Regions from separate parts of the Homo sapiens genome. Here all the other regions are linked to region 1. The links come from fine-mapping of genetic effects on gene expression. A gene starts in region 1. Each other region holds a variant in brackets. All regions are shown on one strand. Distances are between the middles of the regions.

Evidence for each region. PIP is the estimated chance that this variant, and not a neighbour inherited with it, causes the effect.
Region 2: its variant is fine-mapped to the expression of CCDC80 in nasal epithelium (TOPMed, PIP above 0.99).
Region 3: its variant is fine-mapped to the expression of CCDC80 in nasal epithelium (TOPMed, PIP above 0.99).

The regions. Positions count from the first base shown.
Region 1 is chr3:112,637,179-112,645,644 of GRCh38, forward strand. CCDC80 (coiled-coil domain containing 80) reads right to left here and starts at 3,965. Exons shown (of 8, transcript NM_199511.3): 1 at 3,149-3,965; 2 at 850-2,738. The coding sequence starts at 2,727.
Region 2 is chr3:112,776,779-112,785,244 of GRCh38, forward strand. No RefSeq gene overlaps it. Among named protein-coding and RNA genes, the nearest start is that of CD200R1L-AS1, 21 kb to the right of the region's middle. The variant C/T (reference allele first, on the strand shown) is at 3,332.
Region 3 is chr3:112,714,520-112,722,985 of GRCh38, forward strand. No RefSeq gene overlaps it. Among named protein-coding and RNA genes, the nearest start is that of MIR9900, 18 kb to the right of the region's middle. The variant C/T (reference allele first, on the strand shown) is at 4,072.

The sequences.
Region 1 (8,466 bases):
TCCTTTTTCACACACTGATGCACAGGCACATGCACATACACATTTTACAGAGCCCCCGGAGAAACTGACATCTAGATTTTAAATTCAGGTGTATCTCTAGAGTACCGGAAATTGAAGCAATTAACCCAGTTCCCCACATTCCACTCTTTGGCTCTTCCTAGTAGCTGGATAGAAATGGGAGAGGTAGGCTTTAAGGGGAGAAGATTTCTGCTAGCTCATTTTAAAAGGATCCGTGAGGGTCATACCAACAAGGACTCTTCTCTACTCTCAGTCATACCCACTCCCCACCCAGGCTGTCTTACTTTCCTCTTGGAGCACTCCAATGTTGATATAGAGCTAATTAGTGAAAGAGGGGACCTCTGCTATTGTCCCATAGACATGATTCTAGTTCCTAAGTCAGACAGAGAGAAACCCTTTTACTAAGATGTAACTGAAGTCAATGCACTCCCTTTTAGGAATTTCATCTTTCTTTTCATCCTTTGGACTTGGTAAAAGAGAGCTTTGTCCAGAAATATCCCTTGGAAGAGAGTGGTAGAAATGGGGGAAGGGTCCCTACAGGTCTAGAGGAAGCTGACTACAGGTGCTCTCCTGGGCTCATGTGTAGGGTCCCCAGCCACTGACTTTGTACCACAGGGCCATGAGTTGTGTGAGCAGAACTTCATAGGTCACTAAACCAGAAGGAGCTACTGGCCTGCTGCCCTCTTTTGCCAGACTTCTGAGCTTCTTGACACAGTACAGGTTCAGTCACAGTCTGGCATCTAGCAATATGATTTTTACAAAACTAACAAGACAGACGTTAACATGCCCTGCCTCAGCCCATAGAAGAATGCCAAGGAGAAGGCTACTTACAAGGAGTCTTCGTTTGCCTTCAAAGGACCCCAGCAGGTCGGCCACTGACTTCTTGGGACTCTGCGTGAAGTGTTTGTTGGTGGGTTTCTGATAGCCATCCTGTTCTGTTTTACCTCCTTTTTTCTTCTTGCTCTTCTCTTTCTCTTGCTTGCTCTTTTTCTCAGACTTCTTCATTTGCTTTTCACTCTTAAGTAACTTGTCTGCGTTCTCATTCTTCATCTTTTTTTTCTTCTCCTTCTCTGGTTTCTCAAGCTTTTCATGCTTTTTAGACTCCTTTGCTTTTTTAAGGGGAACATTCCCCACCTGCAGCTCGTCCTCCAGCTGAGAGGCAGTAGGCCGGCTGAGGTCATACTTCTCCTCATACTCATTACTAAGAATTTTGTCCTGGGCCTTCTTTTTGGGAGGTTTCTCCTTTGCTGGCTTGGGAGGACCTGGCACCACATTTGGGTCTCGGTGGCCATGTTCCCGCCTGTCCATGCGGTTGTCCCGGAAACGGCCTGGGCCAGCAGCCCTTGTGCTGGGTTCTGAGATGGTGGTGGGAGGGGCATTTGTGAAGCTCTCCAAGCTGGTGGCCTTGCTGGGCCTCCTGGTTGTCTGTGGCCTCTCCCTGTGCTGATCCTTCCGGGATGGAGGGTAAAGATTCTCTGAAACTGAGGGTCTCCTGGCAGTGATCACCTCAGTGGTTGTAGGGGGCCTGTGGGAGGGTGAGGGGGTCCAGGGCCTCTGCGTGGTGGGAAAGGCAGTGGTGGTCATAGGTCTTGCAGCAACTGTTACCGCCCGGGACGTGGACCGAGTCACTGTTGTGGCTGGGGCAGGAGGAAGGGTGGTGGCTCTGGGGGTTGAGGGAGGTTGGGGCAAAGCTGGTGCAGTGGCGGCCAGTTTTCTCAGGACCTTCACCCGACTCTCTCTGGTTGGTGGGACTTGTGCTCTCCTTGGGTCCTCTTTCTTCTTCTCGCTGCCCAGGCTTGGCCTTCCTGCTCCCCCTCCACCGTCATTCCCCTCCGCCACCACCTGGCCCTCTACACCAGAGGCCTTACATTTCTGGACAAAGCCCTTCTGCCTGATCTTCTCGATCCTACGGATGGGGCCTTGGTCGATGACCTCGTACATGGCTTCCAGCCTAACGGGATATGGATAGCGCTCCTCCACCTGCAGCGTCTTCTTCAGCAGCACCATGCCAAACTTGCCCTTCTCCAGCTTCAGGAAGCTCATCAGCTTAGGGATGAGGCTAGGGTCCAGGGGCTGCTCCAGGATCTGGCCCTCGCTGGTGATCCTTCTCACCTTGCCTCCTTCCTCACCTGCCTGGTGGAAGAGCACAATCTGTTGGATGTGCCTCTCCGCCAGCTCACAGTACACATCGTCCTTCAGCAGGCTCATCATGAGGCGGTAGTAGCCTTCCGAGGCATGAGGGGCTGAGATGACCCATACTCTGTTCTTCCCTGCAAAGCTGGCAAGGATGTTGGGAGAGCTGGACCCCGAAGGGAAACGCAACATTCTTGACCGAGCTGAGGACCCCTCATCTCTGATCATCTCACGCGGAGAGCCCCTGGCTGCTGGTCTTTGCTCAGGTCTCACGGCGGCCCCATTGATGTCCGAGCGGGCTGGCGGCTCTGTTGGGCGAGCTAGTCTCAACACGGGCACACTCCTCCTTCTCTGGAGAGGCTGAAGGTTTGGTTCCTCCAGAGTGGATCTCTCAATTCCGCGAGACCTCCCAGTGTGCCTCAGAAACCGAGCTGGCCTACTGCTGTCCGGAGAAACCAAAGGCACTTTCCGTCCTCCGTGGCTGCCTCTAATAGTGGCATGGGGGTGGGGTTCTGATCCACACACTAGCCACATGGCCAACAGCATAGTGAAACGGGGTCCCATTCTCCATGTCATTGTGTAATCCACTTTGCGATGCACGGAGGTCATAAAACAAAGGGGAGGGGGAAAAAAGAAAGAAAATTATTTATCTGGAAACAGAGCTGGTCATTTTCTTTTTCTGTATCTCAGCCAAGGGGAGGGGAAAAGGTTGGTTAGAGAGAAGGAGGGAGGTCAGGAGATGGAAAATGGGATGAGATCCTGTTACTTTCAATCCCCTATAATTTGTTAGTGTTTAACAGAGACAGTTACATTAAGCAGGAAATCCAATTCAGTTTCCCAGTCAGCATGCTTGTACTGTTTCAACTAATGCTCTGGATGCTCCAAAGAAAATGCAAACTAGCATATTAATTATGACAACATTCACATTTCATTCCTTCAAAATAAGCAATAAAGAAACAAATAAACAGATCAAAGACAGAAAAGATTACACACTTACATGGTGGCTCATAGAGATGGAATGCAGAGGGTTGCAAAAGAAATCAGAAGTTTGGTTCCCAGGACAGTTTCCTAGATGAACTACTTTTCCTCCCAGCCCTCTCTCTCTTTACCGAGGGTGAGCAATACAAAAGGGGTGTGCTGCAGCTCCAGCTTTCAGAGTACCGCCACAGATCCACAGCCTGTCCTGATCTGAGAGCTGAGCCGATGCCTTTTCTTTCTGGCTGTGTCTTTTTACCTTCTGGACAAGTAGGATGAGGTGAAAGGAGCTGTCCTTCTAAGTCTTTGTATCTCCATTTGTCTGCAGTTTCTCCTCGGTCTCGTGTGTCTGTGTGTGCCAGTCCCTTGTGCTGACACAGGACGTCCCTTAAAGTCCAGTCCTGGCGATTTCTGAATCTCACTCTTTCCCTCTTTAAAGTTCCAGGATCCTTCTTATCTCCCTTTCCCCCATAGTCTGGCTTAGTCTCTTTGTTTCCGGGCGTAAAAGCACTGGGATTAATATGTTTTCCAGGCTGAGGGAAAACACAGGAATGTGATGTCGAAAAGGGACTTTTTTTTTCTTTCACTGTGCTTCTCTCCTCCCTTTATTTCTCCCTACCTTTTTCCTCCTCTTTTTCTTCTTCTTTTTCTTCTTTCTCTTGCCTGGATTCAGTCCCAGAAATGTTAGGACTACCTCAGTTTTGCTCCAAACCAAACTCAAACAACAGCAGCCACTGGAAATCAAGGAAACTTCACTAAGAATTTAACAGATCAGCAAAACACCGCCTCCTTCCCATTTTAGCACGTTCAGAGTGGACTCAGTGAGGAGTGAGAAGGCTGTTCTTTGGGGTGGGGTAAAGTTTTTAAACTCCACACATCATCATAAATCACTTTAGAAGAGGATGACTGGTGCCTTAACCCCTTCCAAACCAAGTCATCGGGGTAACTTCTCTTCCAGTCTGTTCTTACACTGTACTTTGGAAGGAGAAAATTCTCAGATTTCTGCATCAGGCTACATTCTTTTCTTAGAGACAGATACTCATTTGGGTCAGGGTGCTTGGCTGTGCTGACACAGACAGTATATATGTATTTATAGTCCCATGTGTATATTCTTATATCTTTCTCCCTGCTTTGTGCTTTTAGTTTGAGGTTGGAAAAGCCCATGGAAAACATGACTAGGTTGTTTTTATTTTATGCTAATTGGGGATCATATTACTGTGTTCTTGGTCCTAGTTTCTCCTCGGCATGGAAGGAAGCTGGTAAAAGGTTAGAAATGCAGGCAATGGCTGCAAGTCGAGATTGCAGTTGACTGTTACATCAGGGAACAGGCATTATGATCTCTAGCTTCAAAGCTCTGGCTGCAGATGGTAGACTAAGGGCTCCCTTGGAGGTCCCGAGTGTGTGTGTTTGTGTGTGTGTGTGTAGTGCAATATTTTCCTCTGCAGAGACTTTAGATGTCTGAAGGGCTTTAGGCAATCCATAGAAGTAGACTTATCAGGTTCTGAAAGAGAGAGTGAGGCAGCTTTGGGATTCCACCTCCTGAGTCTGCCATAAGGATTCAATGGAGAAGGAAGGGGTCTCAGGTTACGTGGATATTTCTTCCGGCCATGCTGGGCGAGCTGACTCTCCATGTCACTATTAACTGCCACCAACAGTGACAAGCCAGGGTTCTCAGAAACCTCCTTGCCAGCTCAGTCATGCTAATAGCGTCCCTCACTGGATCAAACTTCATCCCTAGTTGTTATGCCTTGATCAGCCCCATCTTGCCCTGGTCACATTTGACTTTTTTCACATAAGCTACGAGCATGGAACTGAGAAAGTCCTGTATAGAGGTTAACTATAGAGTTGCCCGGCCACACCTTGAAGTCCCAGGGGTACCAAGAAGGATGGCCAGCCCTGCTGTGGCATTCTCTCAGACACTTGTAAGGATAATAACAAAAGTGGGCTTCAGGCAGAGACCCTCTGTCCACTGGAGTCATAGATTGCAGCCTTCGTGGTATTCACCTGTTGGGTTGATCAACCTAGCCTTGTGCTAAGTTGGAGGGTCCTAGATGTTACTTCCTTTCTCATAATTTTCTAAGGCGTCCTACACTATCCTTACTGAGCTTTCTCCCTTCTGGCTTTTCATTTCCTCTTCTCTTCTCTCTGCTTATAACAACTACCATTTATTGAGCATTTACATGTGAAGCTTTGGGCTTAGTATTTTTGTGAATTCTTTTATTTAACCCTCACAGTATCCTTAGAAAGTAAACAGAATGATCCTCATTTTATAGATGAGCAAACTGAGGCTTGGTGAGTTTAAATAAATTGCCTATTGTCCCACAAAAGGTAAGCAGTAGCTCTGAAATTTGAACCCAGGTTTAGAACAGCCTACAAAGCGTGATGCTATCCTGCCTCTCTCTTTAATTTTCTACTCATACCTTCAGTTTTTTCCCTTCCTTCAATTCCTTTTTGCATTTCCCACATTCGTAGAAGAGTTTCATTTATTTGTTCAACCAGAGTACTTACACTTTTAGAGTCCTACTGTCTGGGATAATTGTGTAACTGTACTTTTTGCTTTTCTCAATAGGTCCTTAAAGCCCTTTATTATTTTTCTTGAATAAGTCATGACTTACACAAACCTCTCCATGATGTGCACAACATTTGTCACCTGTGCGCTGGTAAAGCTGAAATACAGCCACTTTAGCAACCCCGAATTGACCATGAGGAGCCACCCCAACCCTGGGTTGTGCCTGTCTTCCTAGGACCTCAGGCTTTCTTCCCTCTGTGAGCTTCAGTCACCAGATGGCGCACTAAACACACACACCAGAGAGGACCTAACACTCCACCGCCGCCGTTAGTCCCCACCCCACACCCAACTCCTTCCCCCAGTCTCTTCTCACACACAGATACATACACACACACTGGCAAAGTGGGGCTTCTCATGCTTGTTTTCATCTCAATGCCTAAACGCTTACCTGGGGCTTCAGAAAATCCTCCTGAAGAAGTATTGGAGGCACGTACCTAATAAGAGCAATGATAAATTCTCATTCATTCATTTCCGGGGAGATCTATAATGATTAATGGCTTGTAATAATTCTCAATTTCAAGTCCGTTATTTAAGAGCTCCATATTTTGTAAGTCCTCCATTTAGATCTTTCTATTTTTCTGCAACTGAAGAAACAATTAACCAATTAGTGCTAGGGGTTGGGGGAGGGTGGTGGGGGTTGGTGATATCTGAAAGGAAGACATTGATGTTGAGTCAGAAAAAGGTGAAAGGAAGAAAATGTTAAAGTAGACTTTAGAAATGCTAATTTGGGAATTAATTGATAGGAAACTACCTGACATTTGTTTTGTAGTAATTTGTGGGGAGGAAAGGAAAGAATGTACAAACTAGAACTGCTTTAGAGAAACTAGGGTGGGGATAGTTATTTGATGAAAGCTGGAGTGAATGTAAGAAGGCATCCAAAAAGGAGTGTGCTAACTGGTCAGACCCACACTAATCCAAGACTTCAGCAACCTGGGACCAAGGCTCAGGGTAACACGCTGTGACAGGCACGCTAGAGAAACCAGGGTTTCTGTCACATGCCGTTGGTTCTCTTGCACAAAGTAACACTCAGAGATGTTACTGAACTGAATTCTATTGCTAAAATAAAAAAGCATTTGCTTAAGAAGAAACAAGAATAAAAAGAAAAGGAGGGGATAACAGCATGCTGTTCAGTGTGGTTTTGGAGGGAAACCACCTCTCCTGCTCTGTGATCATCAGTATCCCCAGCAAGAAAATTAGCTGAGCCATTTTATCACACCTTTGTGGCAGAAGCACAGACAATACTCACACTGAGGAGGCTATGTGTTTTTCCTTCCCATTTGCAGAACTCAATCAAATGTTCAGTCTTAGGCTGCATTTGTGTCCTTCAGAATGAAAAAAGAATTCTTCTCTTTCTCAGTATTTTCAGTGTAGGACAGACTAAATAAATAAGTTGCCAGGTCAGAGAGAAAGCCAAAGATGACTATTAATGCAGGGTGCTGCTGCAGCCCAGGTGATACCAGTGAGCTGGGGGTTTCCCAGGTGCCAGTGGGACCTTGACCCCAGCCAGTGTCCAGGCTCTTGACACTGTCAAAAGAATGAATTCAAGGATATTCTAATCTGCCACGTCAAGAGTCTCCTCAATTGTGTTGACCATGCCTTTTATGGGAGCTGCCAGGGACCTCAAGCCCCTTCAGTCTCAGTTATGGCCATTACGGCACTGGGTGGCCTCCTCTCCCTTCAGAGCTGAGAGCAATTCCTTTTCCAATGGCCCTCCTGCTTGCAGTGAGGACAGGGTCTGGGTGGGCTCCCTTGGCTGGGACAGTCCTTTCTCCAGTGTCCTGACTTCTCACACTTGGAGCAGCAACCGTTGCCTGCAGGTTTGCTGTTGAGCCTGTTTGGTCTGCGGTGAAGCGTCTTCCTGGGTGACCCTGAGGTTGCAGGGCACTGTTTACAGTGACTGCTAATCATTTGGGCTGGCTGTCTATCCCATTTTTTGCCATTCTGGGTCATTTCAGCCATTTTAGCTCTGTCCCTATTATTGAATACCCCAAAAGCCACACCAAACATTTCATTAATAGGTGTGTAGAGTTCCAAAGCCAATTTCTGTAATGTTCTTCTTATGTCAGGTGCTGACTGGCTAATAAAGTGTGTCTGTAGAAAAATTTGGCCAGCGTCAGTACTGAGATCAATGTTAGTATATGTTCTTAGGTCCTCCACAAAGGTGCCCCTGAAACAAAGCTGAGTTTTCATCCTTTTCTTATTTATCTTATTTTATTACAGTTCGCGGGCTTAGTGGTATATTGTTTCATTCCCTCCACCAAACAAGTCACCATATGATTTTTCTTAGATCAACCTGGTCCTGTTGATAGTTCCAGTAAGGGTCATTGCTAGTCACGGATGTGGCCCCCACAGTGTATCGTTCAGGATCCCCAGCAGACAAGCTGTAAGCATAAGCCTGGGTGCTTTTTCTTTACTCTTTTTTTTTGAGACAGAGCCTCGCTCTGTCCCCCAGGCTGGAGTGCAGTGGTATGATCTCGGCTCACTGCAACCTCTGCTCCCGGGTTCACACCATTCTCCTGCCTCAGCCTCCCGAGTAGCTGGGACTACAGGCGCCCGCCACCACACCCAGCTAATTTTTTTTTGTATTTTTAGTAGAGACGGGGTTTCACCATGTTAGCCAGGATGGTCTCGATCTACTGACCTCGTGATCTGCCCACCTCCACCTCCCAAAGTGCTGGGATTACAGGCATGAGCCACCACGCCTGGCCCTCTTGATCCCTGTTTTTTCAGGATCTTATTAGGCCATAGCTTCCGAAGCTATTTCAAGCTTC
Region 2 (8,466 bases), 140 kb after region 1:
AAAAATTAGCTGGGCGTGGTGGTGGTAGTCCCAGCTACTCAGGAGGCTGAGGCAGGATGATTGTTTGAACTGGGGAGGCAGAGGTTGCAGTGAGCCGAGATGGCACCATTGCACTCCAGCCTGGGCAAAAAGAGCAAAACTCTGTCTCAAAAAAAAAAAAATTAAAGAAATGTTGAAATCTGATACAAACATCTCAGCTGGAGGGTGGTTAAGCTACGGTTGAAGCATTAGTCTGATGTGTGGCAGGATGGGAATCCGAGGGGCCTGAAGCCTGGGCCAACAGCTGGCTCAAGAGAGAGAGAGATCAAGGTCCTGTGAAGACCAGGGTTAGAAAGTGGGTCAGCCTAAGAAACAATGATGCTTACAATGAACCCCTTAGAGAAGGCAGGGACTGATGTTGCAAAGGCAAGGATGATTTAAACAAGGAGCATCTGATGGAAGAGTGGAAGAGACAGGTTGAAAGGTGACAGTGGTGCTGGGTTTAGGGACAGGGATCTGGTGTGCAGGCAGTGGGGGGTGCTGAGATGAGTAAAATAACAAGGAATAAAAGAAGTAAAGGCTTGAGATCTGGGTCTAGAAGGAACTCTGTTACAGTTTCCCCTTACCCATGTTTTCTCCCTTTACAGCATATTCCATCCCCATCTCCTCCTCCCACTCCTGCGTACAGGCAGCAGGGCTCAAGCTAGACCCTATGGCATCCAGAGGAGGGCATCTGCTGGGGGTTTGTCTCTCCAATTTGGTGTCAAATTGGTATTAATGAGTGTCCTTTTCTCTACCTTCTGGAACCATGCCCTGCTGGATTCAAGCCTCTGTGGCCCTCCAAGTGAGGCCCCTAAACCCATCCAAAGGTTTTCCCTGCCCCAGAATAGACAGGCCCAAGAAGAGAAGTTTACCCAATCTTGCCCACCTATCTAAGTCCTGGACCCAATCACTCTGGCCTCTAATCTGTCTCTGACTTTGACCCCCAGCTCTAAAAACTGCGCCAGATTCTTCACTCAAAAACATTTATGGACCGTCTACTATGAAACAGGCATGCTCATCCTTCCTGGAGATACAGTTGTGAACAAGACTCTGTCCCTATGGTCATGGAGACTATTGCCTAGTGAGAGACAGAATTCAGTAAAAAGGCAATTTCAGGAAGATGTGATAAATACTGGGATGGGGAAGTGGGAACACTTAGGAGGGCAGGGGGAGGCAGAGTGGGGCAGAAAAGACTTCCTAGAGGAAGTGAGAGCTAAATCCAGATGCAAAGGACCAGTAGAAGTGAACCAAGCAAAGAAGAGGTCTGTGGGTGTGGGCAGGGCAGTGATTTTGGAGGAAGGAATGGCAAGTTCAATAGCTCAAAGGCTAAAGTGTAGGACAGGTTCAAGGATCTGAAGATAATATGGCTGAACCCAGAGGATCATGGAGATGGGGCTGGAAATGTGATGGCTTCCTAGATCGCTGTGTGAAAAAGTGTGTCCACTGAGCATCCAGGCTTGGAAAGAAAAAAAGAGTCATATCTGCCCTGGATTGTACTATAAATTTCTTGAAAATAAAAACTGTGCTTATTCATCTCTGCATCCCCAGTGCCTTGCAAAGTAGGCACAGTAATCTGTCAATAAACTTTCTTTCAAGGGTTCAATTATTGCATGGGCTGGCTAATAGCTTTTCTCTGCCTACAATTCCATATGATGAATCACTGCAATGCCAGTGTTACGGTTGCATAGTAAGTATTAGAGCAAACGCTGGTCTCAGTCAGGTGGTAGTGGTATGTTAAGAATACACAGACTAAAACAAAGATATTCTACATTCTATACACTCAATACATTCCAAGAGGGATTAAAGATATATCAGGATCCCCCCGCCACCACATAGTACTACACGTGGACACGTTTGATTTATATGTCTCTTTTCTTCTTCAGAAGTTCTTTTTCTACCCCAATTTGAAATGTTTTATAAAAATTTTTTGAGGTTATTGCAGTTTTGTAGCAGTAATATGGTAATGACTCACCTATATTTCACAATAAATTACTGTAAAAAGCAACACCCACAAGCTTGCCAATGAATTCCTCAGTTATCCTCTCTATGACCTATGAAAATAGCAATGTTTTCTTTAATCATCAGCATAGAGATTACTGAAGACTTTGTCTACAATTTTAAAAAACATAATTCAGCACTAAAATAATATAACAGAATTGGATTATCTTAGATTTTAATCTCTAAACACAAATTCCAGATTATGTCAAAACATATAAGTATTCCTGAGTTACTATTAGGGTCATAGAAGAAAACATATTTCTAATAGGTTCTAGGAAAGTGATGAAAATGAGGTAGTATTCCATAAATAGAGGAAAATGTAAATTGGGGTAACAGTAAGGCTTTGGATTTAAGTGACAATTGCTCCTGACCTTCTCAAAGAATGATTACCCACAAGCTCAGGCTACCCTGCTTAAAATTCTGCAAGTCAAGCTGGTTTATTCAGGATACAGCAGGTAGGATGTATCTGAGGAATCTCACTCTGAACTTATTGTGGCTACTGGTTAGGATAGGAATAGGGTGAAAGATGAGGCCTGGCTCATTTGGAGTTAATGGTGAAATATAAGAGGAAAGGGATGGAGTTAATGGTGAAATATAAGAGGAAAAGGATGGAAATATATTAAAAGCTGGTGAAATATAAGAGGAAAGGGATGGATATTCAAGCAAAAGGTCAGCAACACTTTGGTCTTTGCAACCAAGCAATTATCTTTATATAGCACCCCCTTCTTGGGAAAAAGAAACTGTGTTCAAAAGATCAAAATTTTAAATCAGAAGAATTACATGGTTAAGCATGAAATTAGTGTGAAGTCAATGATTAGAAATTCTTCAAGTATATTTTTATTTTACAGTAGCATATCTATTTTAAAAGCTATTTAATTCAGAAATGTTTAGATAAGGGATATGTTGATGGAAACTAATCAAACTTTAAAATTGCTGGTGCAAGCAGATTTATTTTCTTAAATCTTGAATGATTTTGCTGTTAACATGTTCTTTTCAGCAGTCCGGAACAAAATAAGTATATAAATTCTAACTTCAAATAACATAATTATTACTCTTTGAAAGCTAGAAAAACTGAATCAAGAAAACTTTCATGGCTTTTCCCTAGAGCCAGGAAAAGTGGAAGGTTCCCTAACTATGAGAAAGGCCAGCCTGACCTTTTCTGTGAGAAATAGAACCATGCAGATAGTAGTCAGATGAGGCTTCAGCTTCCAAGAGCCCTACCCTGAGTGTCCTATTTTAAATTGAGAACACTCCACCCTGAAACTTCCCATCCCAACCACTTTACTCTGTTTTTTTCCATAGCACTTACTTC[C/T]TTCTAATATGCTATTTACTTTTTATTGTCTGTCTCGGTTCACCAGAATGTAAGCTCTACAGAGGTTAAGGATTTTTTTTGCCAGTTTTGTTCGCTGATGTATCTCACCTTCCTAGAACAATGCCTGGTACATAGTAGATACTGAATTTGTCCTTATGTAATCAAAACTGGGAGACAATAGACTAAAGAAGGAAGTTCAGAGTATTAAGGACAAGTGCTAGTGATTCAAACTAAGTTATGAACAAATAGTGAAATATCTAACAGGGAGGGGCCAACAGTTAAAATTCAGTGAGGACCAGGATACCAAGCTGCTCAGAAGCTTTAAAGTCCAAAGTAAGTCAGCAAAGATTGAAAGTCCAGAAGACATTTAATTCTTTGGCAGACACTTTAGCTACCTACTCACTCTCCACTTCCCACTTTTACTCACCATCTGAAACCTTTATTTTGGTTATAATAACATTGTGCACCACTTCAGATGGGGATAAATGGACTAAGCCAATTATGACCATTCTTTTCCCCGTTTCTCAGCTGCTCAGTCCAGGCCAGTGAGAACTAAATAGAAGTCAACTGGGCACATTCTGGAAAATAGAAATTAGTTTTGCTGGTAAATGGAGACATAAATGATTGGCATAGCCTTTCCCTCTTCTTCCTACCTTGCGCATGGACATTAGAGCTGGAGCTGTCCCAGCCACCTCAGGTGCTCAGGGAAAGACCAAGAGAATTCTCTTTATTTAATTCACTGTACAGGTTATTTACCTGCTTGTTCCAAAATTTATTTTGGACCCTTACCTATAAATAAAATTTCCAAACTCCCTTGCCAACTGCCTCCAGCTAGATATGGTCATTGGCAGCACTAGGAGGAAATTGAGGAATAAGAGGAATGGAGAAGCCAGGGGATTTATCTTCCCTTCCTCTGCTTCCAGCAGTATCTCCAGTGTTGACATGGTCTTCTCCATAATCCCAGCCAATGCCAATGGGCCCTTTTCCATGGTCCCAGCTCCCACCAAGCAGCCATCTTACACATGTTACACATCCAGCTCCAGGTGACTCTGACTTCCAAGCTCTGGTACACACTATCTCCTTTCTTTGTCCCTTCAGTCCTGTGGGTGGTAGTGGCTTCCTGCTGTTACTAATCTTTAAGCTGCTAATCTTTAAGAAGCCCTATTTGGCTTCTCAGCTCTTCCAGTCTTTTTGTACCTCGTGCCCTGTATTAAATTATTTCTATTGGACACCTGGCACGAACTGAGCTTTCCTCTCTGGATCCTGATTTATACTACATCGTATTTGGCTTTTTCATTGCTTGACACAAACCACTCTTCAAATGGACTCAAACCTTAAGAAATAATTACAAATTCCTTATCTTGTGGACTGGTAGATTTTGTAAAGTCTATCCCCTTTTACAGGGTACTCATGGCCTCAGTGGGTAAGGAGAGAGTAAAGACAGCAAGTTGGTGTGGTTATATACGTGTGGATACATATACACACACATACATTTACATATATATACATATATAATCACATGGTTATATATGTCTTTACTATCTCCTTACCCACTGTGGTCATGAGCACCCTCTAAAAGCCATGGCTGCTCCCTGCCTGGGAGATTCCAAAATTTGACTCTTCCATGTTATACTTAGAACATATTTTCTTATTTTATCTCTGACTCGCTCCATCCCAATGGCTCTATACCCTGACTCACCCTTTCTGCCAAGCTCCTTAAGATAGATAACATATTTAGATAGCCTATCATCTCACCCCAAGATTTCCCCTCCTCAACTTCTCCCTTGGATATACTCACCTTCAGCCATAAAGCAAATGATGTACTATTCTACAGTTCACCAGTAGTCTCTTGGAACCAAAAACAGCCTGGACCTAAAAGCATCTGGCCTTCTACCCCTGCAAAGAAAGATCCAAACAGTATGTATGTGTGTATGTGTGTGCACATGTATTGCAGGATGAATTTAAAATTTCCTTCTTCTCATGGGTGCAGGACAGGATAGACACTTTGGAGGATAAACAAATTTATTATTTCAACCAATATATATTTAGCTTTTGCTTTGTGCTTATATGCAAGGGATACAGCAATGAACAAAGCAGATAAATCTCTGCCCTCTGGCCTCCTAAAGCTGATTCTGACTCTCCAGAATGGCAAAGAGAGCCATTTACTGCCAGTAGGTCCTGTTATTAAGGTTATTAAGGTCATGTTTCCATAAGAGATAGGGTCAAAGTTTTGGTTTCAAAAGGAATACCCTTTCTCCTTATAAGATTAGATTGTGTTGTCCTCCCAAAAAATGACTGCTCATTCTAGCAACGTGTGGCTTGCTCCCTGGGAAAATCAGCAAGAAATAAACCAGAATGCTAAGTGATAAGTAGACCAAAATAAAGTGATGTCAACAGTTTTACCTTCTCTCATTGGCTGGAATTCAAACCCTCCTCATCTACAGTCAGCAATTTGGGGGCTTAGAACATGATACTGCAAAGTATGGTGCCTTGGCATGCTAAGTACTTTGAACTGAAGGAGATTGGAAGGACCTCAGAAGCAAGGTCTCTCTGACCTTCCCCCGCCCTCTGGTCTTCCACTTCCCTTTCTTCCCTGAAGGGAGTCAGAGAAACCAGAATTCCTCTTCCCCATGGCAGATCATAAAAACTAGAACTCCACTCGCCCAAAGCAAGCTATGAAAACTAGAAAGGTCACTCTCTCTCTTCATCCTGCAAGACCCTCACTCCAGAGGGTCCAGCCCCAGGGAAAGGAATGCTACAGAGAGAGGCCAGAAAGAATCTGAGCAGACAGCCCTTGCTGGGTTTATCCCCTCAGTCTATCAACATTAGATCATACCTTTTTGCCTAGGCACGTTTCTACACAGCTGTGCTTTCTTCATCAAACTTAAGTGTAAAAACGGACACTTTTCCCTGGGTCTTTTGGTCTTCATTTCTGAAAGTTCCCATGTGACATAAGAATTTGTATTATGCTTTTTGCTTGTTAAACTGTCTTTTGCTACAAGAATGTTGGTGGTGACCCTTATGATGGGTAAGGAAAGGCATCACACCTTTCTGCCCTGATGCAATACCTGAGTGGGAGTCTTCATCAGCATTCAGTCCAGGACTGAGGCACCTAAAATGTGAAGGATGTGTGAAGGGAAAATAAATCTAGGGAAACCAAATTCACTAAGCCAAAGTGAAAAGTCAAGCTAGAAATTGCTTAGGGCAAACTTGCCTCTCATTCTATTTCTAAAAAAGATAGCTACTAAGAAAAAAAAAAAACAAAAAACTATATACCTCCCTCACAATTTGTCCACAAGGAAATTCCTTGCGGACAAAGGACAGACAGAACTCAAAGTTATCTCTCTACTCACTGAGATAAATGCACATCTGATTGCTTCCTTTGGAAATACTAATCAGAAACTCAAAAGAATGTAATCATTTGTCTCTTATCTATCTATGACCTAGAAGCCCCCTCCCTGCTTTGAGTTGTCCCGCCTTGCTGAAATGAACCAATGTATATCTTACATATATTGATTGATATCTCCTGTCTCCCTACAAATGTATAAAACCAAGCTGTGCCCCGACCACCTTGGGTACATGCCGTCAGCACCTGCTGAGGCTGTGTCATAGGTGAGTCCTTAACCTTGGCAAAATAAACTGCCTGAATTGACTGAGATCTGTCTCTGATATTTGGGGTTTACAGATGCAAAACGGGACTGGGTGGTAGGGAGGAGGACAACAGAATCTGTTTCTTACCAGGAAAGAGTGGAATTGTCAGAGAAAATAATGAGAGAGAGAAGGAGTGGGAGGGAAAAAGAGAGGGAGAAAAAGAAAGAGACACAGAAAAGAGAGATGAGAGATCGTGTCTTCATGGGACTCCCTCCTTTTGAAGGCTTGAATATGTTACTCCCTCCACAGCTACACTTGAAAATGTCATGCACATCCATGTGAAGAGACCACCAAACAGGCTTTGTGCGAGCAATAAAACTTTTTAATCACATGGGTGCAGGCGGGCTGAGTCTGAAAAGAGAGTTAGCAAAGGGTGGTGGGATTATCATTAGTTCTTATAGGTTTGGGATAGGCAGTGGAGTTAGGAGCGATTTTTTGCCGGCAGGGGGTATATCTTCTTACAAAGTACATTCTCAAGGGTGGGGAGAATCTTACGAAGTACGTTCTTAAGGGTGGGGGGATAACATTACAAAGTACCTTCTTAAGGGTGGGGACGGTATATTGTCACAAAGTCAATTGATCAGTTAGGGTGGGGCAGAAACAAATCACAATGGTGGAATGTCATAAGTTAAGGCAGGACCTGGCTATTTTCACTTCTTTTGTGGATCTTCAGCTGCTTCAGGCCATGGATGTATATGTGAAGGTCACGGGGGATATGGCTTAGCTTGGGCTCCAAAGACCTGACAGGAGAGATGTTCTTTAAGGTTCTATTTAGCTTCAACATTCCAGGATCTAAGATCTAAAGCAGGATGGAAAAAATCTCAAGTTTATTAACTGGATTATATCTTATTTGGTAAGGCTCAACATTTCTTAAGGAATAACACTGTATTTTTATTAGTTTTCATAAAGAAATAAAAAGTACATTCTAATTTTCAAAAGTAGTTATGAATTTTAATGCCTTATATGTCTCAAGAAAGGTCTGAGTTCAGTCAACTTGTTTGAACTGGTTTCTATAATCAAGATAAAAATTCCTTCTAAAAGTAAAAAATAACTGCTATATTAAACTAAAGTGAGATCTTTGAAATATTCTAATACTTACTTTGCCTTTATGATCTGGCTTAATCTTCACATCTACCCTATGAGGTAGATAGTATTTTAAATTTTGTATTTATAGGTGTGGAGATTGAGCTTTGGAAAAGCTGACTAATCTGCTCAAAGCCACCTGGCCCGTGGTGATGGAGCTGGGATCTGAACTCTGGCAAGTTGATAGCTAGCTATTTATTCCACTATCCTATATTGCCTCAGACACACTAGAGGATGTTAAAGTGGCAAAAGACAGTAAGAAAAGTCTTGAACTGTGCTTGCTTTAATCTTCCCTATGAAATTTAAAAGAAAAATCCTTGTTTATTTTTCTCTAATGAACATATATTGCTTCATTTTATAAAATGTACACTTGTGATATACATATCAATCCACTTTCATCA
Region 3 (8,466 bases), 77 kb after region 1:
TATTTCATAGTAATTAAATGAGATGATAGTATATAATGTGGCTAACTCCAGAGCCTGAACACACAGAGGCACTAAATAAGTAACTGTCATGGAGTAGTCTATTATGAAATGGGTCACAGGACAAATAGGTTTTAATGAATGTAATAACTAGCCAATTAGCTAGGCACTGTTCTAAGTGCTTTACAAATGCAGACTCAGGCCGGGTGCAGTGACTCATGCTTGTAATCCCAGCACTTTGGGAGGCCAAGGCAGTAGGATCACTTGAACCCAGGAGGTTGAAGCTGCAGTGAGCTATGATTGTACCACTACACTCCAGCCTGAGTGACGGAGCAAGGCCCTGTCTCTTAAACAAAAAAAATGTAGGCTCATTCAGTCCTCACAAAAACCTTTGAAGTAGGTGCTATTATTTCTATTTAATAGATGGGGAAATTAGGATAAAGAGAGATTAATTTGCCCAATATTTGGGCTTGTATTAGTTAAAAGTTTTTTTATTATTATTATTATTCTATAGCTTCATAAACAACTCTGAAATCTCAGTGACTTAACACAGTACAAGTTTTCTTCCTTGCCCAAGTCACAGGCCAATTAGACATTCAGTGAAGGCCATCATGTAGGGATTCGGAGTTAGTCTGAATCACCAAAGGTGGTAACTACCAACTTTTAGGTTCTCAGAATCCTCTTGTGGACCCTCTGCATCCAGGCTGGAGAAAGAATAAGGAAGAGCTTAAAGCAATCTTTCTCAACCTCAGTATTTGTATGGTTAATTTTATGTGTCAATTTGGCTGGGTTAAGGGATGCCCAAATAGCTGGTAAAATATTATTTCTGGGGATGTGTATGAGAGTATTTCTGGAAGGGATTGGAATTTGAATAAACAGACTGAGTAAGGAAGATCTGCCCTCAGCAATGAGGGTGGCAACATCCAACTCATTGAGGGCCTAAATAATACAATAGAGAAAGGACAAATTCTCTCTCTTCTTCAGCTGGAACATCCATCTTCTCCTGCCCTTAGGCATGAGAGCTCCTGGTTCTCCGGTCTTCCAACTCTGGGACTTTTACCAGTTGCCCCTCAGTTCTCTGGCTTTCTGCCTCTAAGTATCAGGGCTTCAGACCCAGACTGAATTATATCATCAGTTTTTCCGGGTCTCCAGCTGGCAAATGTAGGACTTCTAAGACTCCATCATTGTGTGAGCCAATTCTCACAATAAATATCCAGTTATATGTATGTGTGTATATCCTATTGGTTCTGTTACTCTGAAGAACTTTAATACAGTTTTATTGACATTTTGGACTGGATCATTTCTCATTGCTGTTCTATGCATTATAAGATGTTTAGCAGTATCCCTGGCCGCCAGTGACCATCTGCCAGTTGTGATGAGGGGTGGGAGGGTATATGTGTGTATACATGAGTGTGTGCCCCCTAGTTGAGAATAATGGCTTAAAGGATCACTCCAAGGTTTTAGAGGTTAAGCTAGAAAGTGGTCATATTTCTTTTACTAAAATTTTATTGCCTAGAACTCAAATGGCCACAGGTAGCTTCTTGAGGGTTGGAAAATGTAAGCCAGCAGTGTGTCCAGGAACAAGAGGAAGTCTGGGAAGATTAGATGAGCAACGCTGGATTTGCCTGAGATATATAGACCTCCAAAAACATACTAAAAGCTTCAGAGAAACTAGCAGAGATATGCAGGATATTCTAAACAGTATTGGGGACAAAACCATACACTTTTTTTTTTTTTTTTTTTTTTTAAGAGGAAGTCTCGCTCTGTCTCCCAGGCTGGAGTGCAGTGGCATGATCTCAGCTTACTACAACCTCCACCTTCCAGGTTCAAGCGATTCTCCTGTCTCAGCCTCCCGAGTAGCTAGGATTACAGGCACCTGCCATCACAACTTGTTCGTTTTTGTATTTTTAGTAGAGACGGGGTTTCACCATGTTGGCCAGGCTCGTCTTGAACTCCTGACCTCAGGTGATCTGCCTGCCTTGGCCTCCCCAAAGTGCTGGGATTACAGGTGTGAGCCACTGTGCCTGGCCAAAAACACAGGACTATCAAGATTTTTTTTTATGGCTGATATCATCACCCTATATAGTTTTGCCAGAATACAAAGTTAATGCAATAAATCACTAGATGCCATGTTTCCTGGGTAGATATATTTGTCAGATAACATGATATAGCAATCAACATTTCCCAGTCATCTGTGGGAAAACTGAACATGGGAATAAAGCTGGGATGATAGGAATGTTTTCATGAGGCTGTCCAGACCCAATCACGTTCCAGAAAGATGAACGTCTGCAATATGTATGGCCAGGAGTGCAAGAGAGCTAGAACTGCATTTTTGGGAGAGGAGAAGTGGAGAATCTTTGGATACATGTCACAAATAATGAAGAGTCAAAAACAAGGAGAGGTAGAAGCAAGAGTAAAGTTGCCATTCATTTACTATCAATAGTTTCAAATAAATATTTCGGCCTACTGTAAAGGCATGTTGTAAAGTTGATTAATAAGTGACATTTTCTAGAATCCCACTTGAAGCACTAGCATTTTTGTATTTCAAAGCAGGTTAGGTCATTTTTTTTCTGTACAGAAAAAAACATATGTCTTTTGTAAGGATCATCTAAATCGCAGTTGGCTTCCTGATGGTGTATTAAAAACCTTTAAATAGGTTGGGCACAGTGGCTCATGCCTGTATTCCTAGCACTTTGGGAGGCTGAAGTGGGCAGATCACCTGAGGCCAGGAGTTCAAGACCAGCCTGGCCAACAAGGTGAAACCTCGTCTCCCTAAAAATACAAAAATCAGCCGGGTGTGATGGCACGTGCCTGTAGTCCCAGCTACTAGGGAGACTGAGGCACAAGAATCGCTTGAACCCAGGAGATGGAGGTTGCAGCGAGCTGAGATCGAGCCACTGCACTCCAGCCTGGGTGTTGGAGTGACTCTGTCAAAAAACAAACAAACAAACAAACAAACCTTTAATTTTCCCTGCTTTACGGCAGCCAAATTAAAGTCAAAATGCTTCTTGAGTTTTTTTATTATATGGCTTGAGGAAAATTATTTCTCGGCTGCCTAGTTTGTACATTTTTCTCTTTACTACATAATCATATTGAAAAGAACTAGAAATGCTCAACTTTCTACCAACTGGCATCAAATCAAATTCTAGGAGCCAAGGCTAGCTTCTCCAACCACACTTAGCTTCATCCCACCCAACCCCTGCCCTAAGTAAAAGACAACAACACTACATCTTTGTGCCAATAAAATCAATCTAATTCAGCCTAGGTCATTGGATTAAAGAAAAAATAGTCTTCCAATAAATCAAAGTTATTGATAGCCTAAGTCTCACTAAAATTAATAATTTTATTTTTTGAAAAAAAACCACAAAAGCTAATATTAAATGAAGAAAAGGGAAAAAGGATGGGAAAAAGAAGAAAGGAGGAGAATAAGATACTCTGAGCTGTAGATAAGTCTTGGTAAGCTAATTTATTTCCAGTCTCATACAATACAAATGGTCCCCAACTTAAAATGATTTAACATTTTTCAGCTTTATGATAGGCTTATCAGGACATAACCTGATGCATTTCAACTTATGATATTTTCAACTTACAAATAAATGTATGGAGGTGTAAGCCCAACATAAAGAACATCTGTAGACCTCATCAGTTACGTTTTCCAGAGAGTGGAAGAAAAGGTCAGAGTCATGAAATGACATCAACTGATAACTAGAGACAATGACTTTTCCCTAGATGTTTCTAGTAAGAAACAAATTAATAAACACAACTAATAGATGCATGCACATGTACATTAATTCACCAAATAGTTATTGAGAAATGCTATATGCAAAACACTCTCCTAAATTGGCAGGTGAGGGATGGAAAAGGTGAGAAAAATGTAATATGTTTCCTCAACAAATTTGAAATGTAGTAGGGATGTCAGATAAGTAAACAAAATACAAGTACACAAAATACTTGTCAGATACAAGTAAACAAAATACAAAAAGAACAGAGACAGGAGGGGAGAGACATGGAGTGGAGAAGAGAAGGGGAGAGGAGGCAAGGAGGAGACTGAAGGATTGAAATTTCCTGACTGAA[C/T]GAAGAAATGTGGTACAGCTTTTAAAAACAAGGGATCTGAAGAAGTGTAGTGAGGCTGCCAACATGAAGAATGTCTCTCCTTTCTGGGCAAGATCAGACTTGGTTCTCTGGATTATGATGAAATGGAAATTTCAGGGCACTAAGAGAAACCATAAGGTTTTACATGCCCTTTATTATCCATCAAATGTAGTGCCAAGCCATCCTCAGCAATTACTCACATGGATGTCTGGCCTCTGCCTGAAAGTGGGATTCTTCATTTCTCCAAAGGTTCTGGGCCCCAGGTCTAGCATTGCTCCCTCAGTGACCTGAGGCTGACAGCAGGAGGGCCTGCCTTGCATAGCACAGTGTCATCCTATCACTACTCTTCTGTTAAATTTGGAATATTATGAGCAGGTTTTTCTTTCTTCTTTTAGAGATACAAAAAGAAAGCAAGCACTGAAGAAAACAGAGTTAATTGGAGAAATGGATTGATTTAGCCAAGTGCCTGTTCTCAGGTGTACAAATGCTTCTGATAAAAGGATCATCTTCCACTACTGTTAAGCCCTGCAGGCTTGGCCTGAGAGAGTCAAGAATAAAGCTGACTGTGCAAACTTGCAAACCTAGTGCATAACAGAGAAAATAAAGACATCATTTGCCGATTGTAAAACAAAGAAAAAAACAAAACCCCAAAAACTAAAAAGCAAGCAGGCACCTTCCAACCTAAAAAGGCCTTTTAGTAGTGAATTTGGCAATATTACATGTTCTCTTTCCTTGATGCAATATACAGCTCAACTCTTGGAGAGCTACAGTGTAATGGTTAAAAGAATAGATTTAGAATCAGATAGTTTGGGTATGAATTTTGGTTCTAGTACCTTTTGCTGTGTGACCTTGGACACATTTCTTAACTTTTCTTCAGTTTCTTTCCAAACCTACAAATGTGGGATAATGGTAGTATTACTTTATAGAGTCATTATAAAGTGATTAAAATAAATTCTTTAAAAAATTTATAATAGTACTAGAGTCACAATATGAGTTTAGTAAATGATAGTACTTTATAGAGTCATTGTAAAGTGATTAAAAGAAATTCTTTAAAGAATTTAAAATAGTACTAGAGTCACAATATGAGTTTAGTAAATGCTGATTATTAATAACATTACTTTAGAAAAACAGGGAATAATGATATAATATTAATTCCTTATGTTTTTCATAAGAAGGAAAAATCATGGGTATCAGGGCAGCTCAGGTCCCATGGTGTATGTAGAGGGGCTCTTCCTGAGTGTCTCCCATTACAGTAAAAAAAATTGAGTCAGTAATGGCCCATAAATGCAGAGATACAGCTCTGTTTTCTCTAGCAGTCTGGCTGCCTATTACTAGATTCTTCTTTGCCAACGAAAATATCTTACACCTCACCATCAGAGAAAGACAGTGGCACTAGGCTTGGGAGCCACCATTTATCTGGTTACTCCTAAGATGTTATTTCTGATTTTCACTACCCAACATAGTAACAAATTATTCCAGGTTTGTGTCTCATCAAAAGTTTTTAAGTATTACGTTTACATCTTCCTTCCAGTTATTGATAACACATCATACAGGATTTTGTCGGGAACAAAGACATACACATGGGTTTCTCTACAAGTGTAATTCAGTACATTTTGTTCTATAGAGATCCTACTGCTTCTTTCTTTCTACTAAAACATCCTCTCTCCCTCTCTCTCTCGCTCACTCTTGCTCTCTCTCTCTCACCCCTCCCCTTGCTATCTTTCTCTCTTCCTCCCTTCATACTGTTTAGTTCATGATATACTATCATATTAGTCTGTCCAAGTTCTTTTTATCACCATACCCCAACCTGTCCAAACCATTCTCCTATGTCTAATGAATTCATGTGTTAATAAATGTACTTTCAAAATGTGCATGATTTTTCCATGTGAATGTATTTTAGAACATATAATTGATATTCTATTACGTGTATATCATCCTATTTCTTACATTTTTACTCAGTACCATCTTTTTTAGCTCCATACATGGGGCTATGTCTACTTCTAGTCTGCTGGTTCTAACTGCTGCATGATGCTTTCTGGCATTCACCTACCACATGTGGTTATCCACTTTTCCCCCGAAGGACACCCTGATTGCTTTCAATTCCCTATCACCACCAAAATGGCTGCAATAAATTATGAACCTGCCTAAGTTCATAATGATGAACCTGAGATATATGCCCAAAGGCCAAATTGCTGGGTTGCTGACATACATATAGTAAATCTGACCAAGAGCTGCCACTTTGCTCTTTGATGTGGCTGCACCAGCTGGAGTACTCTTAATTATCACCCTTCATACAGCATTTCACAATTATAAGCCCCATCTCTTTATGTCTTCACAGTGATGTCCTGAAATCACATTGACCACCTGTGTTAAATGTCAAGTTCTATTAGCTTCTAGCCATTCTCTATGCATTGGAATATATAGTAAGACAAGGTCATAAATTTACTTGTTGATTCTCTTCCTTGATATTTTCTTGTTAGAATAACTGAGCACTTTCTTGGCAATGGTTCTTCCAATGTGGTATCAGTTAATCACCAGATTTATTTTAGAGCTTTGTCTATGGTTTCTTTTCCCCTCATCCTCTTTCATATTTCAGGTTAAATCCCTTTTGAACAGGTTAGAAGTTCTATCAAACACAGTTTTCCTTTTCTCATGGGGTGCACATCATCCTTGCCAAGGCTCAGATGTTCTGGCATGAAAAATCATGGCCTACAACACTTTAAAATAATTTCTGTGGCCAATGGTTCACTTCCCTGGTGCCTTTTCCTCTTCCAAGGCTCCACATGCTTCGATTTGTAGCCTGGACTTCAAAGTCACCAACAATACATTCCAGATTCCTTTGGCTGCGGTATTATTAATTCCCAAAGAGATCAGCAAAACAGCCAGCAGTTAGTGGGTTTGAGGAGAGACTCAATTGCTGCTACTTTTTCAGAAGATGCAATTACTCCTTCCTCTGAGTTACTTTCTGTACACATTAACTTCTAGACAACGGTTTCGATTCCATTGTTCTTTTGGGATATTGTTCCTCCTGACTTCTCTCCTGGATTATTTTCTTCATCTTGATAAAACTGGTATGATATTTTCCCATTACAACTGTCCACCTAACTCAGGAGCACAAAAACAGTTTGTTCCATAACAGCATAAACCTTGTGATTTCAAATTTCTATTTGTGATGATGGCAGAAAATTAATCTAGTCACTTTCAGATACTTACTCTCATCCAGTCAAATTCAAAAGTATTATACTAACCACTCAATTCACATAAATATTTCTTTCTTTTCTTCTCCAAGCCAGTTTGGGATCAATAGCCCTGGAGAGAATAAAGGGGAATGCCCATACTTTCTAATATTTGTCCTGCACTATCTCTGCATTACTAAAGAGCTCATTAAGTCTGGTCTCAGGCTCAGCAGCTGACATTGACTAGTAGCTGAAAACTGGCTAAAATGTGACAACCATCTTCTCCCTAGGAAGATTTGTGACTTCAGTTGATTTCAGGAAACTATAGCCACTTCTACCTCTTCCCCCAGGCAGAAGTCAACGAGCATCCTTTGTGTCTGTCTGTTGCCTTGATAACCAAGTGGCCTCTTAGAGTTGGCAAATAAATGTACACTACCAACTGACATCCGGAGTTCTATAGAGCCACAATAAAATTACAAAGTCCCACAAATTGCGAACCAGGGAAGAAAATTGGGTGCAGCATGCAGGGAAATCTTTGCTTTCTTTGAGCCTTGCTGCCCTGTTTCCATATAGCCCTGTGGTGCTGGCTGCAATTCTAAAGCCGTGCTCAGTAAAATTCATCCAAGGTATAGAATGACTTTATGCCCTGCTCTTTGACTTCCCAAACTTTGCAGGGAGACCTATCCAGCAACCCCTCTCCTCATACACAAACATACAGACACATGTTCCTATGCATGCAGAAATGCATACACACATGCACAAATGCATACATGCATGCAACACATCACCACCAACACCAACACCCCTCTCTGTTTTTCATTTTCAAGCACTCTTTCTTCAGCTGTCTCCTGAAGCTTGTCATTGTTACCTCCTGGGGCAAGGAATAGGAGTAGATAACTTTCCTCAACAACAACCTTTTAATTCGGTAATTTGGATTCTGGGTCATTATTTTCAAGGTGGCTTGTATCCACAACAACCATTTTCAATTAAACTTCCCAGTGGGAAAGGGAGCAGTAGGGGTACATTCCATTACTATGGTTGACTCTTGAACAACAAGGGGACTAGGAGCATTGACTCCCATGCAGTGGAAAATCCATGTATAACTTTTGACTACCTCAAAACTTAACTACTAATAGCCTACTGTTGACCAGAAGCCTTAGCCATAACATAAAGTTGATAACACATACTTTGCATGTTACAT